Linked DNA regions of Homo sapiens: region 1 is linked to region 2. The links come from fine-mapping of genetic effects on gene expression. Tissue or cell type: stomach. Region 2 holds a variant in brackets; the other region holds the start of a gene. All regions are shown on one strand. Distances are from middle to middle.

Region 1 (8,110 bases), 370 kb after region 2:
GTTCTCTTAGGTAAAACCTTGAAGAACTCTTGCTTGTAATTTGCAAGAGATTTTGAAAAGAGAAAAGTTTCAAAATGCTGAAAAGGAATTTGACAGAAGAAAATAAGGAAAGTTTGAATATGCTCTTAAATCTGCTACCTGAGAAGAAATCAAAAGGAATATGCTACTCAACAATAAAGAATGTGGTCTCCATGAGAGATGAGCAGAGGAAGATCTCAGTCACCTGCATGGAGCTGGATACGGAAGAGAAATAGAAGCTGTGCAGCTGGCAGCGTCTGTGAAATATGCTGTGCTTGTTAGCTGAAGAATAGGCATTGCAGAATGGAGCCCTGGAAATGGTCACAGGATGACAGATGAGAAGAAAGAATTTAAAGGGATTCTGAAATTTAAAAAAAGCAAGAGATGAAGTTTAAATATATACAGTCTAGAAAGAAACAAGCAGAATCACATGACCCATATCAAAAGCAGCAAAAAGGTCAGAAAGGCAAAAAGGAAAGGTCAAGGTTGAAGCCCTGACAACTCATTTTTATTCATTTCCTTTACTCAGGTTCACAGCAGCACTGAAGGAGTAAATGTAAATTGTGTGGCAATTGAGTAGAATCCTAAAGGAAAGGCAGTCATAGAACAGGGAGTTTATTGTTACCCTTTGTTCAATTTCTAAATGAACCACAGTGATAAGAACTTAGGAGAGAGATCAGTGATTGGAGCTAGGCCTAATTTTACTTAAGATCAACCTTAATGATCAGAAAAAGAAAAATAGGTTATTATGTCTGCCAAAGGCATTATTTTAAACACCAGAGAAATTAAGTCATAATAAAGGCATGTAGGAAGTTTAGAAAATACAGATGGGGAATAAAATGAAAGTAGGCAATAGCAATAAAAGGCAGCAATATGAAAACAGATATGACACAAATTAGAAGGTATTTTACAAATGGTTAAATAAATTCTACACTATAACTGGGTCTCCCAAATTCCTCTTGAATGGTCACAGGTCTGAACTGTTTGCTGATGTACCCAGTGCTCTGGGAGTCAGGATAGCAGTGGAGAACCTGCTCCATGCAAGGCAATGCAAATCATGCCACCAAGTGTGTAATAACATGACAGAATCAGAATGCATTCATTTCTAATAATATCAGGGTGTGGTAGAAGGATGCTGGGAAGGAGAAATAAGAGTAAAATTAGAGAATTCAACTTTAGAGACACCAAATGAAAATCCGGGATTGGGTTAAACAGGCTATGAATAGTAAAAAGTCCAGAAAACATAAAATACTCAGGTACTATTAGAAGAATTTGAAAACTAAAATACAAAAACAAAAACCCTTGTTTATAAGAAAAACATTGGCTAAAACAAGGATGTTCTAAATTGTAAAATATTTTTCCCCTTAAACTTCAGAAAACAACAAAAAATAACAAATTTCAGGCCACTACAGGAAAATACATGGATTAGTCTAAAAAACTTGGAAGGCTTAGTATCCTTTAAGTTTTATTAAGCCCCTTTTCATTTTACTTACTGTTGGTGTTTTCACTCTGAGGATTCTGAAAATTAAAATAGCAATGGGAAATGGTGATAGTGGTAGAGAAGAGGTTTAAAAAAGCAAATCTCAACTAGTCAAATGAAATCATTCAAAATGTGAAAAGATTCATAATAGGCTGAACATGTTGGAACACCTTACCAATTGAGGAAAAAGAGAACACATTTCAAAGAATGGTAAACTTAATTCCGACATGCAGATTTAAAAATGTTGTTGGGGATACTAAGTATAAGGAAAGTGCCATGACCCAAGGGTGCACTCAATGACAACATCACCCCCATTCAAGAGACCTCTTTTTAGCTTACAGAAATATCAGACATGTTAGGGCTTATATTCTAAAATTACACAGGCCCAATTACCTTGGGGGTTGGCTGTCACTTTATATTCTCTGAGTAGAGCTGCTGACAAGGAAAGCCAGGAGAAAAAGAAAGTCACCTCGGCACCCACAATTCAGAGAGCATTTGGGGTCACACCTGTAATCCCAGCACTTTGGGAGGCCGAGGTGGGTGGGTCACTTGAGGTCAGGAGTTTCAGACCAGCCTGGCCAACATGGTGAAACCCCGCCACCACTAAAAATATAAAAATTAGCTGGGCGTGGTGGCGGGCCCCTGTAGTCCCCGCTACTCGGGAGGCTGAGGCAGGAGAATCACTTGAACCCAGGAGGTGGAGGTTGCAGTGAGCCGAGATCGCACTACTGCACTCCAGCCTGGGCGACAGAGTGAGACTCCGTCTCAAAACAAAACAAAGAAACAAAACAAAGAGCATTTGGGGTTCTCAGGAGGTGTAGCCTGTACACATAGAGGGTACTGGAATTGTTTAAAAAATTACACTGCAGTTTGACTTCTTTTCCATCCTCACTCCTACACCTAGGTTTAGGGGACAGAACCATCTGATAAAGATAAATCTGTTTTAAGATTTCTGGGGTGTTCTGCAAAGACTACTATATCATTTGCAAATAGGTTGTCTTTTAATAAAAATCATGCTACGTAATGTCTTCTTAATATACGCTGAACAAATTGCCTGTTTTAATTTGGCTATATATCTACAATTTAAAATGTTCATACTGTTATCTTTTACCAGTGGAGTGTTTTTTTGTTTGTTTGTTTGAAGTCTTTAGGCGAAGTGAATTTATTCAAGGAAGTTCACATGTCGGTTTTGTTCTTTTAGAGGGGTGTCTTTTTGACCACAAAGAAAAAAAAAGTTTTCCACAAATGTCATCTAACTAAAGGCAATCTATGGACTTTAGGAAGTCAGTTGAGCACACAGATTAATGAGCCAATACTGAGCCTCCTCCCTTCTGACCTCTCAGCACCTGCTCAACTAAGCTCAGGGGAAACTCTTGAGTCTTCTTCTTAAATTGGTAACGCTTGCCCTTTCTTTCTCAAACAAATCAACGCCCAACACCACCACCAAATTATAGGCAACCAACGCGTATCCAACAGCATAAAATAGTTCCCAAGAGCATAAAATAGTTCCCAACAGCGCCAGCGCAGGGGGCAAAACAGAGCGACCAAATGGGGGCACCCTCAGGGGAGTTGCGCTCATCTGGAGCGAGACGCCAGCCTGGGAAAGCGGAACCCCTTTCCCGCCCCGCCCCGAGGACTCACGCTCAGGTGCAACGCCGAGACTCCCGGGGGAAAGAGAGGTGACCGTCTCGGCGCGACCGCCCACACCTCTTGCTCCAAATGACCCCAGCACACAGGAGAGGTCCTCTCAGCGTGGGACTCCGTCTCTCCCGAAGGCAGGGAGCACAACGAAGCGGCCACTCGTCTCTGCAGCCGCGCTACCGGCCCGCAGCCTGGCTCGCAGGTGAGGCGTGAACAGGTAACCGCACCTGTTCGGCCAGCCCCACCTGCTGCGTCCCCGTATCCGGTCCTCCTCCTCCACCACCTCGGTCGGCGCGGCTCGCCCTCCTGGAACCGGGGTGTCACGCTCCGACCTACCTGCGCGACTCCAGCCCCGGACGCCCGCGCTCCCCGCGGCGTGCTCCTGGGCCGCTCCGGGCGGGCAGGCTGCGGCCCCGCGCCCGCACTTTCCCGGCTGCCGGAGGCTGCGGGCTCAGCGGGAAGCCCCGGCGCTGTCCGGCTCGCCGCCTCCGACCGGCTCCATTGTGACGCGACGCGTTCCGCTGGCCAATGGGCGCTCGGCGGCGCGAACCGCTGACTAAGTTCGCGGGTGGAGGAGGAGGGGACGGGGCGGAGGCAGGGCGCGGAGGCGGCTACCACGGTGGTGGCGGTAGCAGTGGCGGAGGAGGAGGAGGAGGAGGAAGAGGAGGAAGAGGCTGCAGTCGCTTCGGTAGCTGCTCCTGCTGTGAATTTTTCAGCTGCCTGGGCCTGAGTGTTTGCCCAGCTCTGGGGCTGCGGGAGCCAGTGACTCACCTATCACTGCTGGAAACAAAGCGCAGCTGCCATCTCCCCGAGCGCGCCATGTGGCCATCGCTGCCCCCTCGCCCAGCCTGGGGTCCGCAGGAGGTAGCGCACAGCCATACGCCCCGCGGAGCAGCTGGAAAGAGCGGGGACTGCTTTCCAGAAGCGGGAGGGAAATGGGCTTCGGCGTGTCCCCCAGGCGCGCCACACCGGTGACTTCGGCACTACACCGCGTGTGTCGGGCCCCAGCCTTCTCACGTGTGCGTCCCTGAGTAACTTGGCATTTATATAACGCGTGTTGGGCCCTGAGGGAAAGGTCGGGTGCAGCACGCGGGAACCTCCTCTTCGAAAAGGAAGTCCCCTTACTTTTCTTTACCCTGCTTAGAAAGATTGCAGGGCCCAGCCTCTGTGAGGGAGGGTTTACAGTTGTACCAACTAAGCGGCTTAAGTTCGATTCTGGCCTTCCAATACCATTGGCTTCTCTCAAATGTCGTTATCCTCAGGATAGGGAGGGGACCACATGGCCGAGGGGCGGTCCCTATACTCATAACCTGCCTTTCACTGCGATTCAACTGCAGAGACACCTCAACTACTGCCCGCTTGCTTCTCTCCCAAGTGGCACTGCATTTGAAGGCCAACAATATTCCTTACGAAACAGAATTAATCCAAACCCACAAATTCTAGGGACATAAATATTTTTATCATCCTCATCCATTTCCCCACTCTCACCCTTACCCCAGTTTTAACTCAGTCTCTGCCCTGGCTATTATCTTGAGCACACTGATTCAATTAGGCAAGATTTATGTCTTTTAGTTGCTATGGTGGTCACATCTCCATTTAAAAAAAGAAAGAAAAAACAAGTTTGTACCGGCATCTCCCAAAGGAATAAAATGAAGACGAACAGACTCAGCATTTGGGGCATCTGAGCAGTTTGTGTAAATGGGAGTATAGCAAATGCCCTATCGAGTTAATATGAGACAAGAGTTGTGTCTCAGACTGTTCAGATGAGGACTACAATTTGAGTCACCCTGAAAGGGAAAAAGAAGGCTGTCTTTGTGTCACTGATCTGTTCTTTTCTTGTTCACTCAGTCCATTCTGGAACTGCAGATATCTTTTTTCTGAGTCTTGAAGGAAAAGCTGAAAGAACATTTCTTCACTTGGTCATTCGATAAATTTTTATTGAGTTTATATGTGTGAGACACTGGGTATGCACAGATCTACAAGTCTAATTTAAATTTAGGTTTGATCCTTACAGGAGTATCTGAAATTCTCTCAGGGACTTTCTGATTAATTATTTTTGGTAGAAGAAAATTCTAAAAGACTCTGTCACTACTTTCACAGCCAGATTTACCCAAGTCTAAAATAGTGATTAAAAATTCCATCATGGATTTTAAGCACCAAAAAAATGACAGGCAGGTCTCAATCGTTTTAGAGGTTTATTTTGCCAAGGTTAAGGACATTCCCCAGGAGAAAGCACAAATACAGGAACATCTGTGATCTGTGCCTTTTGCAAAGAGAGTTTTTGAGGACTTCAGTATTTAAAGGGGAAAGAGCCAGCAGGAGGGGAAGGAGAAAAGAAAGAAAAAAAAGGGAAATGGGAAGGTAGGCAATGAGGGAAGAAGTTACATTCTTGTGAGGCTTTGATTAGTGCCCAGTGAATTCACATTTTGCGTGTGAAGAGTGGGTAGAGGAATACTGATTATGTGTTCCTCTCATGCTCAGTAAATCTACATTTTACATAAGATAAATGTGAAAATAGGGGGAAAGTCAATTATGAATTTGTCTTGGGGTGGGCAGAGGGATGATTTCCAAGTCTTGTCCTTATACCATACATATGAAGATGAGCTGTTATTGTCAGAGTGAGATTCAACAGAACTGTGTTTTAGGGCTCATTTATAGGAGGGATATGCATTCTGAAAGATTTAGGGACCCACAAGGCATTTCACTGTAAGCAATTTGTGAGGGAGGCTATCTGGGGAGATATGTGGCCTTCTATTGTTGCAGCTACCTGGTAACAACAGAAGGCAGGTTTTTAAAATTTTTTTATTTTTTATTTTATTATACTTTAAGTTTTAGGGTACATGTGCACAACGTGCAGGTTAGTTATTTATGTATACATGTGCCATGTTGGTGTGCTGCACCCAGTAACTCGTCATTTAACATTAGATATATCTCCAAATGCTATCTCTTCCCCCTCCCCCCACCCCACAACAGGCCGTGGTGTGCGATGTTCCCTTTCCTGTGTCTGTGTGTTCTCATTGTTCAAGTCCCACCTATGAGTGAGAACATGCGGTGTTTGGTTTTTTGTCCTTGCTATAGTTTGCTGAGAGTGATGGTTTCCAGCTTCATCCATGTCCCTACAAAGGACATGAACTCATCCTTTTTATGGCTGCATAGTATTCCATCGTGTATATGTGCCACATTGTTGGACATTTGGGTTGGTTCCAAGTCTTTGCTATTGTGAATAGTGCTGCAATAAACATACGTGTGCATGTGTCTTTATAGCGGCATGATTTATAATCCTTTGGGTATATACCCAGTAATGGGATGGCTGGGTCAAATGGTATTTCTAGTTCTAGATCCCTGAGGAATCGCCACACTGACTTCCACAATGGTTGAACTAGTTTACAGTCCCACCAACAGTGTATAAGTGTTCCTGTTTCTCCACATCCTCTCCAGCACTTGTTGTTTCCTGACTTTTTAATGATCGCCATTCTAACTGGTGTGAGATGGTATCTCATTGTGGTTTTGATTTGCATTTCTCTCATGGCCAGTGATGATGAGCATTTTTTCATGTGTCTTTTGGCTGCATAAATGTCTTCTTTTGAGAAGTGTCTGTTCATGTCCTTTACCCACTTTTTGATGGGGTTGTTTGTTTTTTTCTTGTAAATTTGAGTTCATTGTAGATTCTGGATATTAGCCCTTTGTCAGATGAGTAGATTGCAAAAATTTTCTGCCAATCTGTAGGTTGCCTGTTCACTCTGATGGTAGTTTCTTTTGCTGTGCAGAAGCTCTTTAGTTTAATTAGATCCCATTTGTCAATTTTGGCTTTTGTTGCCATTGCTTTTGGTGTTTTAGACATGAAGTCCTTGCCCATGCCTATGTCCTGAGTGGTATTGCCTAGCTTTTCTTCTAGGGTTTTTGTGGTTTTAGGTCTAACATTTAAGTCTTTAATCCATCTTGAATTAATTTTTGTATAAGGTGCAAGGAAGGGATCCAGTTTCAGCTTTCTACATATGGCTAGCCAGTTTTCCCAGCACCATTTATTAAATAGGGAATCGTTTCCCCTCTTTTCTTGTTTTTGTCAGGTTTATCAAAGATCAGATGGTTGTAGATATGTGGCATTATTTCTGAGGGCTCTGTTCTGTTCCATTGATCTATATCTCTGTTTTGGTACCAGTACCATGCTGTTTTGGTTACTGTAGCCTTGTAGTATAGTTTGAAGTCAGGTAGCATGATGCTTCCAGCTTTGTTCTTTTGGCTTAGGATTGACTTGGCAATGTGGGCTCTTTTTTGGTTCCATATGAACTTTAAAGTAGTTTTTTCCAATAACAGAAAGCAGTTTTTTTAGTGACTCAGTTCCCAAGCTTAGCTTTTCTTTTGGCTTAGTCAGTTTGGGGTCCAGAGATTCCATTTTTGTTTCACAGCACTTATTTTGTGCCTAGCAGTGTGCTAGACATCATGGGTGATACCAAAGAAGCATAAAACTTGGTCCCTGACCCCAGCAGCCCACAACTTAGTTGAACACGGAAAACAATCAAGGGCATCTTCTGCTCAAAGGAAATGAAGATTGAATAACATGGGTGGAAGTAGTCAGAAAATGCATTATGGAGAGAAGGGAACTTAAACTTTTGAAACAGAAGCAGGATTTAGAAGGACTACATCCTTTACCTTTGCCTTATTGGCCCTAAACTTTATCTTAAAATAACCAGTCCAGCCTCCTGGCTCTTTTTGGCAAGCTGAGAATCTGGTGAAGAAGCCAATATGAAAATATTCTGTTTCTACAACATCTCAATAGGGTCTTTACACTCAGGTGATAAAGGGGATGAGAATGAACAGTAAGTGTGGCCAGTTCCTCTATCCAGTGACACAAGCAAAGTCACAAGTAATAGAAAATGAAACAATCACTACAATTTGGTCTTCTGGTGGTTGAATTCCATGACCCACATGAAATAACCACCTAACTCCTGGGTTTGGCAGGTGTCTTCTGGG
Region 2 (8,110 bases):
CCTTCTGAATCTTCCTTGATGCACTGTACCCAAAAGTCATTTCTCCCAGGGGAAAGCAAGAATTGAATAAAACACCATCAGCATTTGTAACACATCGTCCCTCTACCAGGTTCTCATCCACAGGCTTTTGCCCATTGCATTTCCTCTGCCTAAAGTATCCAGTTTTCTCCAATTTACCTTGTTAATTACCTGTCTTTGCCTGCCATCAGTGCCTATGGTAAGCCTTCCTGGAAATCTCTACACCAATAACCCAGTCCTTTTAATCCTCCCTTGATGCTCCCAGAGTATCCTGTGCATTTCTGCCCCTCTACACTCTCGTACAATTATCTGGTTTTGAGTCTATCTCCTTCACTAAAGCTGTAAGATTCTCCAGGGCAGGGATCATAATTCATTCACGTTTGTTTCCCCAGGGACTAGTATACTACCCAGCACATGGAAGGGGTGCAATAAATACATAGTTGTAAGACTTTATCACACATATTCTTTAGCTGAATCCTTAGAGTGATACTGCAAGGCAGGAATTGTTGGTCACATTTTACAGACAAAGAAACAAGCTCAGAAAGGTTTCAAAGGATCCCCAGGACCATCAGTTCTGACACCCTCTAGCTCCCAGACTAGATTTTCACTTTACTACATTATAATCATTTAACCATACAAGTTCCACATAGAAGACAAATCTGAAAGCATTGATCCTTTGATGTGGGCCTATACATTGTGACCTGCACAACTGAAGAACAGATGCACAAAATTTTCAAATGTGAGTGTAATTGTTCAAATTGTTCTAAAAGCAGGAATGATGATCAGCTAAGGTGATGCAGTTTACATTAATTCTTTCCTCAAGGTCCTCTCCATCCTAAAGCTCTGCAAAAATGTCTGGTGGACATGAATTACATACAAAGTTGATCTGGTTATTAAGTCACAAAACTGTCTCTGGTTAACTGCCAACACTGTCAGACATCTTCAAAGAGCCAGACATGGCACAGCAGCAATGGCTGGCGAACTAGAAGTAACTTGGATGTGGCTGATTTGACCATGCAGAAAAGACAGGTCACCGGCAGAATGGGATTGGTTTGTAACTTTGACCCTCCATGACCCTCTGGCACACTTGAGCCTCTCCTCAGCCAAAGAAAGTGGTTTTCAGCACAGCTGCACCCTAGAATAATGCGGGGTGGCCTCAGAAACTAATGTAATGCTAGGCCACACCCCCGGAGGTACCAACTTAGTGGACCTAGGGTAGGCCCTTGAATCTACACCTGAATTGTTGAAAAGTTCCTCTGCAACTGTAGTATGCAGCCAGAATGAAAGGCCTGGGTGTTTCCGAAGCTGAAGAGCTCATCTCGTTGATCTAAATTTAAGATGAAAAGCCCAACTGGAACACCTTTTGGAACTTTCCTTTCCTTTACATCCAGCGACATTTAAAACACTTAAGTAAACAGCCACTCAGCACATCACAGTATGGACACTGCTTTTGAGTTACTCAACACTGGCTTTCATAGAGATGGAAACACAACATTCCTCTACTCTATCTGGGAGATTTTCCAGCCCTTTCTGCACAAACATTTCTAATGACAGGAAATGTACTACCTTAAAAGGTACTTTGTAGTTGTATGCTTAGAACAGGTGAATATTACAGTATGTAAATTAAATCTTAGTAAAGCTGTTTGTGTATGTGTATCTGTGTTTAAGGTACTTTGCTTGATTTCGGGAACAGCACTTATTACAAGAAAGTTCTTTTGGATCAGTCTATGAAATTAACCGATCTCTCCTTTACACTCACTGATCCTAGCCTTGCTGCTGGGGCCACTCAGATTTAAGTCTAATTCCTCTTCCACTTGACTCTGAATTCAGGCATATCTGGGTGTGAATCCATTTACTAGCTATGTGATCCACAGCAAATGAGCTCTTTCTGAGCTTCAATGTCCTGATCCACAGGAAGTGAGAGTATTTCCTTCGTAGAATTTGCGAGGATTGGCAAGCATCTAATATCTGGAACATTGTGAGATGCTCAATGAATAACGCTTTCCTTCCCTTCCCCATAGAGGTGGAGTACAAGGCTAAACATCCACACGTAGATATTTCACGATTCCTCATCAGGTTGCGGTTTTCCATTTTTCACCATCCTCCCATGAATTGCTTTTAGATTTGATAAATGTGGTGGCCTCACTTCTACAGCATCAGTTAACTCTGGTACAATAACTGCAGTATACCAATGACTGCTTACTGGCTCGTATTCAATGTTTTAAAAGTTTTAGGAACCCAAGGTTTTTCCTCTCAGTATCGGCTGCCTGTGAGCACTAAACCACATACAGAGGTTCAGCCACATATCAGAGACATCTTTATTCAGCTGCTTAGGAGCGAGTATGGCGGTTAGGTGGGAATTCCTTCTGTTATCTGCTGTGCTAGGAGAGGTGGCCTCCAATTATCACACCATGACCATGCTGCTCCTTCCCTGTACCAGGCACTCACCGGGATGCACCTTGTCCCAGCCTCTACCTCCACTGCACCTCGGCTGCCCACCACTTTTATCTGTGATTCTGGGAGGGCAACATAGCACTGCAGAAATCAAATGAGATTTGGCTAAGGCAGACCAGTTCAAATCATGGTGTCCTCTCTCAGAGCAAACTATTGACCTTCAGCAAATCAGTTTTTTTTTCAGGTTATTAAAAATAACCTTTTTTAAAAAAAGTTAATATATGCCTGATAGGAAACTGAAAAACACAAGAAGCAAAGAACAAAGTTATCCACAATCACAAGCAGTTTACAGTTTGACGTGTCCTCCTAGGTCCTGCGTGTGTATAGACACAGCATCCAATTTAATGGGATTAAGATTGTGCAATATGTATCATGCTTTTAAACACCACATGAATATTTACCAATTCAAAATCTCAAATCTATGTAAGTATTTTGATAACCAAGAATATACTACACCAACTCAATCTGCTAGGAAAAAACATAATCTCGCCTTTCTTGTGACAAAAATTTCACAGAAGACAAAAATGGCAACAGGCCTGTAGATAAAAGCACTGGCAGAGTCCCGATTAAAATACTGTGTTCCCTTAATACTCAACCTAAAATGAAACCATAAAGCAACAGAATACACCAAGTATAATGTTTCTAAGATAATTCATTAACCGATCTATACTATTAAAATACTAGCAAGAAGGTATATTGCCACTGAATTACTTAAGGTATTCCTATAGCATAGCCAAGAGAGATGTACATACATCAATAGTTATCATCAAAGTGTGTATCTGAACACATCTGCATACTTCTCTTCCTTTGGATTTCCTTCTGCCCCTCTGGTCCCAAAGTAATGAATAGTTTCTAATACACTCTGCTGACTTCAAGTAAATTATTTAACTCTCTGAATATCAATCAGCACCCCCATCTGCAAAAACTGAACCACCACACCTTTCCAAAGGGATTATTATGACAATTAAATGATTATGCTGCAATAAAGTGTCTAGCCTAATGTCTAATGCACAATAGGCATCCAACAAGTAGTAATTTTTTTTGAGAATATGTGAATATGTTTATTTCGCACTATATAGATTTAGCTTGTTTATTAACAACTATGATTCACAAGAAAAGAGAGGAGACAGAGAGAGAGAAAGGGAGAAAGACAGAAAGGGAGAAAGAAAGAGTAATTATTATCATCACTAGTGTGATATGGCGATTTCCCGCTCTTAGACTGGACTCTGTCCTGAATGCTAATCTATTTGACTACAGTCCTGACCTCTGTGCTGGGTTCTCACTACCTTTGTCCTCCAGGGGTGGTAAACCCTGATCTTCACACAGGAGCTTGCCCTACCCTCGGCCTGAACACCCCTCACCTGTGTTAAGTCTTCACAGCCTCTCTCTCCCTGCCAAGCCACTGTGTGTATTTCTCAGCTACTCTTAGCAAACTCCCAGTGTGTAAAGTGTGCTGGGAGTCAGAAATCTGCATTCTAGGTCCTGCTTGGCCACTAGCTAC[G/A]TGACCACGAGCCAGGCACATAAACATTTTTATCTTGCTTCCCCTTCTGTGCAATGATGATGTCAGACGACACGATCTCTAAGGGCTCCTCCAGAACCAAAGTTTACGACCCCTCCCTTCCCCACCTCCTGGCCTCTTCCCATCTATCCTTTACCACCTTCATCCACCCCTCTACCCTCCCACTCACCCACAAGGGAGTCTTCAAGGCTGATCCTCTCCCCACACTCTTACCTCTGCTCCAAGTCCCGGCAATATGCCGTTATTGGCCATGTATTTATACAAAGCCACTTAAGCCATAGATTTTGGGTTGTTAGTCTGGAAACCTAAAACTCATGTATCATTTCTTGTCTATTAGAGAATGTATTTGTGGACATTACATTATATTAAGATGACAATGTCTAATAAAGGTTCTAACGCTTGCCTGTCAGGAGGAGACATATATTATGTAATATGTTTAATAAACATGTGCTGTCATACCTTTCCTTTTCTGATGTTTCCTATGGAAAAGTTTTCCCTGTAGAGCTGAGTATGCTACTCTGGAGTATCAGACTCAGAGACATTCTATCCTGGGCCTCACAAATTATACATAGATGTAAACTGCTTTAAGAAACATGATAAAGAGATTACTAAAATCATGAAAAAAATTGGTATGATTATTCATCTTCTTAGAGTTCTTTCAAGACATCTAAAAATAATTTAGCTTACAGAAGTTCAACGTCTCATCAACTTTTCAGAAGTTCAATTGTTGCCTAAAATGAAATATTATATATGAATAGAAACTTGAAGATATTTTAATTTTTAAAAGTACATGTCAAATTTGTTCACATAGAAAATTAAAAGTAAAAAAACAAACAGTACATCTTTAAAAGCAACATTATGCTACTTAGAAGATACATGTGGTACGTAGAAAAAAAATTATTACACATATATTTACACACAGTGTTTTGAGTTTGCACAGGGCTAACTCAAGTTGCCTTTGAAATTAAGCAGATATTTGAGATAAAATTACCTAGCTGGGAATTTTTCTGAGCCATTTGCTTGTTTATGATAGCTTGAAGAAAACATACCAAGTCTGCCAAATCTGTAAATACATAGGGATTTAAAACTCTTGTCAAATAAGAAAAATGAACAAATTTAAGGTCATCTAACAGACTTCATAATATATTATATGAATATAGTAGGCTTATCTTTTCTTGCGTAGTAATACAAAAGTCCTGCATGTGTTCCCAGTATGTTGATTTATTTTTAGGATAATGTAATAATTTTGTTTCCAAAAAATGTTAATTATCTAGCACACCTGTCTGTCCTCAGACAAGCAAGTACAGGAGTCAGTTAACACTGCTCACTGTAGGCACTGAGACATCAGCCTGCTTGCTTACTGAGTGATCAGTGGGTGGGGTGGGGGTGGGAGACCTTCACCTACAGACACACTTGGGTCATGGAATCTGACAATGAAAGAATATGAGCACTATTTGATAGTGTTGAAAGCACTCAGAACTTTCAACACTATGGCTGTCTCCGAACTTGACAGAATTTTCCGTATCACATCAGCCAATATTGTACTCACCCGTAAGATATGGAACACTTGTATCTTAAGGAAAGGAAAGAAACAACTATTTGAGTGGTGACTTATATTCCCTTTATGAAATTTACTTATGTCACTCACATTCCAATAATAGTAAGCATACATTATTTTTCTATATTTCAGCTTACTCAGTATTGTGCTGATGATGTACATGAACACTATCTTCTTGGTTTACTCTGTTCTCCATTCACTTTAGCCAAATAATGTCAGCAACCTTTCTTATACTACCTCTAAACCCAATGGGCTATGACTCTGTCCAATTTCCTAAAAGATTTAAGTTCAGCTTGCCTCCCTAAATTGCTATCTAAAAGAATGTTTAAGGGAGCATCTCAATTTCCTATGTTCTGAAAGTTAACACTCAGAGATAAACAGGAATCACATTTCTACTATACATTCCAGTTATCTTCAAGCATTTCCCTTCATACCCTTGTGCTACTGATGCCAAGAATGCTATGTGCTCGGCTCACTCTCAGATGGAGAGTGAGTAATATGGGGCTGTCTTAGTCTGAACTGCTATTACAGATTACACAGGCTGGGTGCCTTAAATGACAAACATTTATTCCTCACAGTTCTGGAATCTGGAAATCTAAGATCAGGGTACCAACACAGCCGAGTTTGGTGAGGGCCTTCTTCCAGATTGCAGACAGCTGACTTCCCTGTCTATCCTCACATGGTGAGAAAAGGGCAGGAGAACTCTCTGGGGTCCCTTTTATAACAGCATGAATCCCATCCATGAGGGCAGAGCCCTCATGCCCTAATTACTTTCCAAAGGCCCTACCTCCTAATACCATTACACTGGGGTTAGGATTTCAACACTTTGTGGGGGACATAAACACTTAGTCCATAACAAGAGCCCTCTGCTTCCAGCATATATTGCTCTAATGAGAGTTATCAGGTAAGGGTTTAGCACATTTTAATCTCAAGTCAGTCAAAAACTCACATCACCAATTATCTGCAAATACAGAACAATTAAAATGGTAATTAAATTACTCCAGATATTCATCTAAAAAACTCTTTAGTTTCCACTATGCTCTACTGAAAAAAGAGTAAGTCTGCAATCATCAAGAGGTCTTAAGTCTAAAAACCAACTGCATGTCTCAAGGCATTTTACACTACTATCCAGTATAAAAGACATTCTAAAATACTAGATATTAAAGCATTCAGAACAATAACGTATGTCCCATTACAATATAGATGGGTTCCACTGTATCTACTTCAGGGAAAAAATGTATGCTTGGGAAAACAAGAGCATTCTTATCAATCTTGAAAATGCATAATTTCCAGTATTTTCTGTTGTTTTGTTTTCAGAATACTTTGTTCCTGGGGAAATATGCTAATTCCCTTGCAATTCTGGTCTACCTTTTTTTTCCTAGTTAAATGAGCAAATAAAGTCAAATTTTAAGCATGAAGTTAGATGCTTTCTAGGAAAAAAGTGATAACGAATATTTTTCAAGTAACTGAAAGCTATAACCATGTTTTCGCCCACTGGCTGCCCTTCAGTTCTTTGAATATGCCAAGCTCACCTGTATCTCAGGACCTCTGCACGTGCTCATCCCTCTGCAGGACTGTTCATTCCCCAGATCTTCTCATTGTTCCCTTCTTCTCAACACTCCTGCCCTAGCTCAGCTGGCACCTCTTCATTGAGGCCTTTCCTGATTAGTCCCCATCTCATTTCATTTCTTCATAGCTTTTACAGCTATTTTATATTATCTTGTTTATGTTTTTGGTTGCTTATGGATCCACAAGCTGAGATCCTGTCTATTTTGTTCACACTCTATTCTCAGCACCTAGGACAGTACCTGTCATATAGATGTTTATAGATTATCTGTTTAATAAATAAATAAATGAATGAATGAACAAATTAACCACATGTCAACTGAAAGCTGAGGACATGTAATTTCAAATAAACTTTGTCTGATTGAATTTTACTTGATTTCAAGAAAGTTTTAACAAAGTTACATATAATAACCTTGTGAATTTGACAGAAATATCAATCTACGGCCAGGCACAGTGGCTCACGCCTGTAATCCCAGCACTTTGGAAGGCCGAGGTGGGTGGATCATGAGGTCAGAAGATCGAGACCATCCTGGCTAACACAGTGAAACTCCGTCTCTACTAAAAAATACAAAAAAATTAGCTGGGCGTGTTGGCGGGCGCCTATAGCCCCAGCTACTCAGGAGGCTGAGGCAGGAAAATGGCGTGAACCCAGGAGGCGGAGCTTGCAGTGAGCTGAAATGGTGCCACTGCACTCCAGCCTGGGCGACAGAGCGAGACTGTCTCAAAAGAAAAAAAAAAAGGAAATATCAATCTAGTGACGGTTCTGTAGATTCCTTACAGGTCAAATGACTGCACCTAGAGTGCTAAATAATGCCAAGCGGGGAACTTGGTCCTACCTTATCCCACACTGTTATCAATCATTTGGAAGATGAAAAATTTTAAATCACACAATGCTGAAAAGGATAGCAAATGGGCTGGGGAACAGAATCAGGTATCAAAAAGATCTCCATAGGTTGAAAAGGCAGGCTAAAACAAACAAGATGATATTTAACAGG

The links. PIP is the estimated chance that this variant, and not a neighbour inherited with it, causes the effect.
Region 1: it holds the start of LRRC8B, and the variant in region 2 is fine-mapped to the expression of LRRC8B in stomach (GTEx, PIP 0.95).

Annotation. Positions count from the first base shown.
Region 1 is chr1:89,520,388-89,528,497 of GRCh38, reverse strand. LRRC8B (leucine rich repeat containing 8 VRAC subunit B) reads right to left here and starts at 3,669. Exons shown (of 6, transcript NM_001369817.2): 1 at 3,476-3,669. RefSeq lists enhancers at 1,641-2,142, 2,143-2,644 and a silencer at 3,346-3,805.
Region 2 is chr1:89,892,267-89,900,376 of GRCh38, reverse strand. The region is part of intron 2 of LRRC8D (leucine rich repeat containing 8 VRAC subunit D); the gene reads right to left. Among named protein-coding and RNA genes, the nearest start is that of LRRC8D-DT, 75 kb to the right of the region's middle. RefSeq lists a silencer at 5,853-6,147. The variant G/A (reference allele first, on the strand shown) is at 3,974.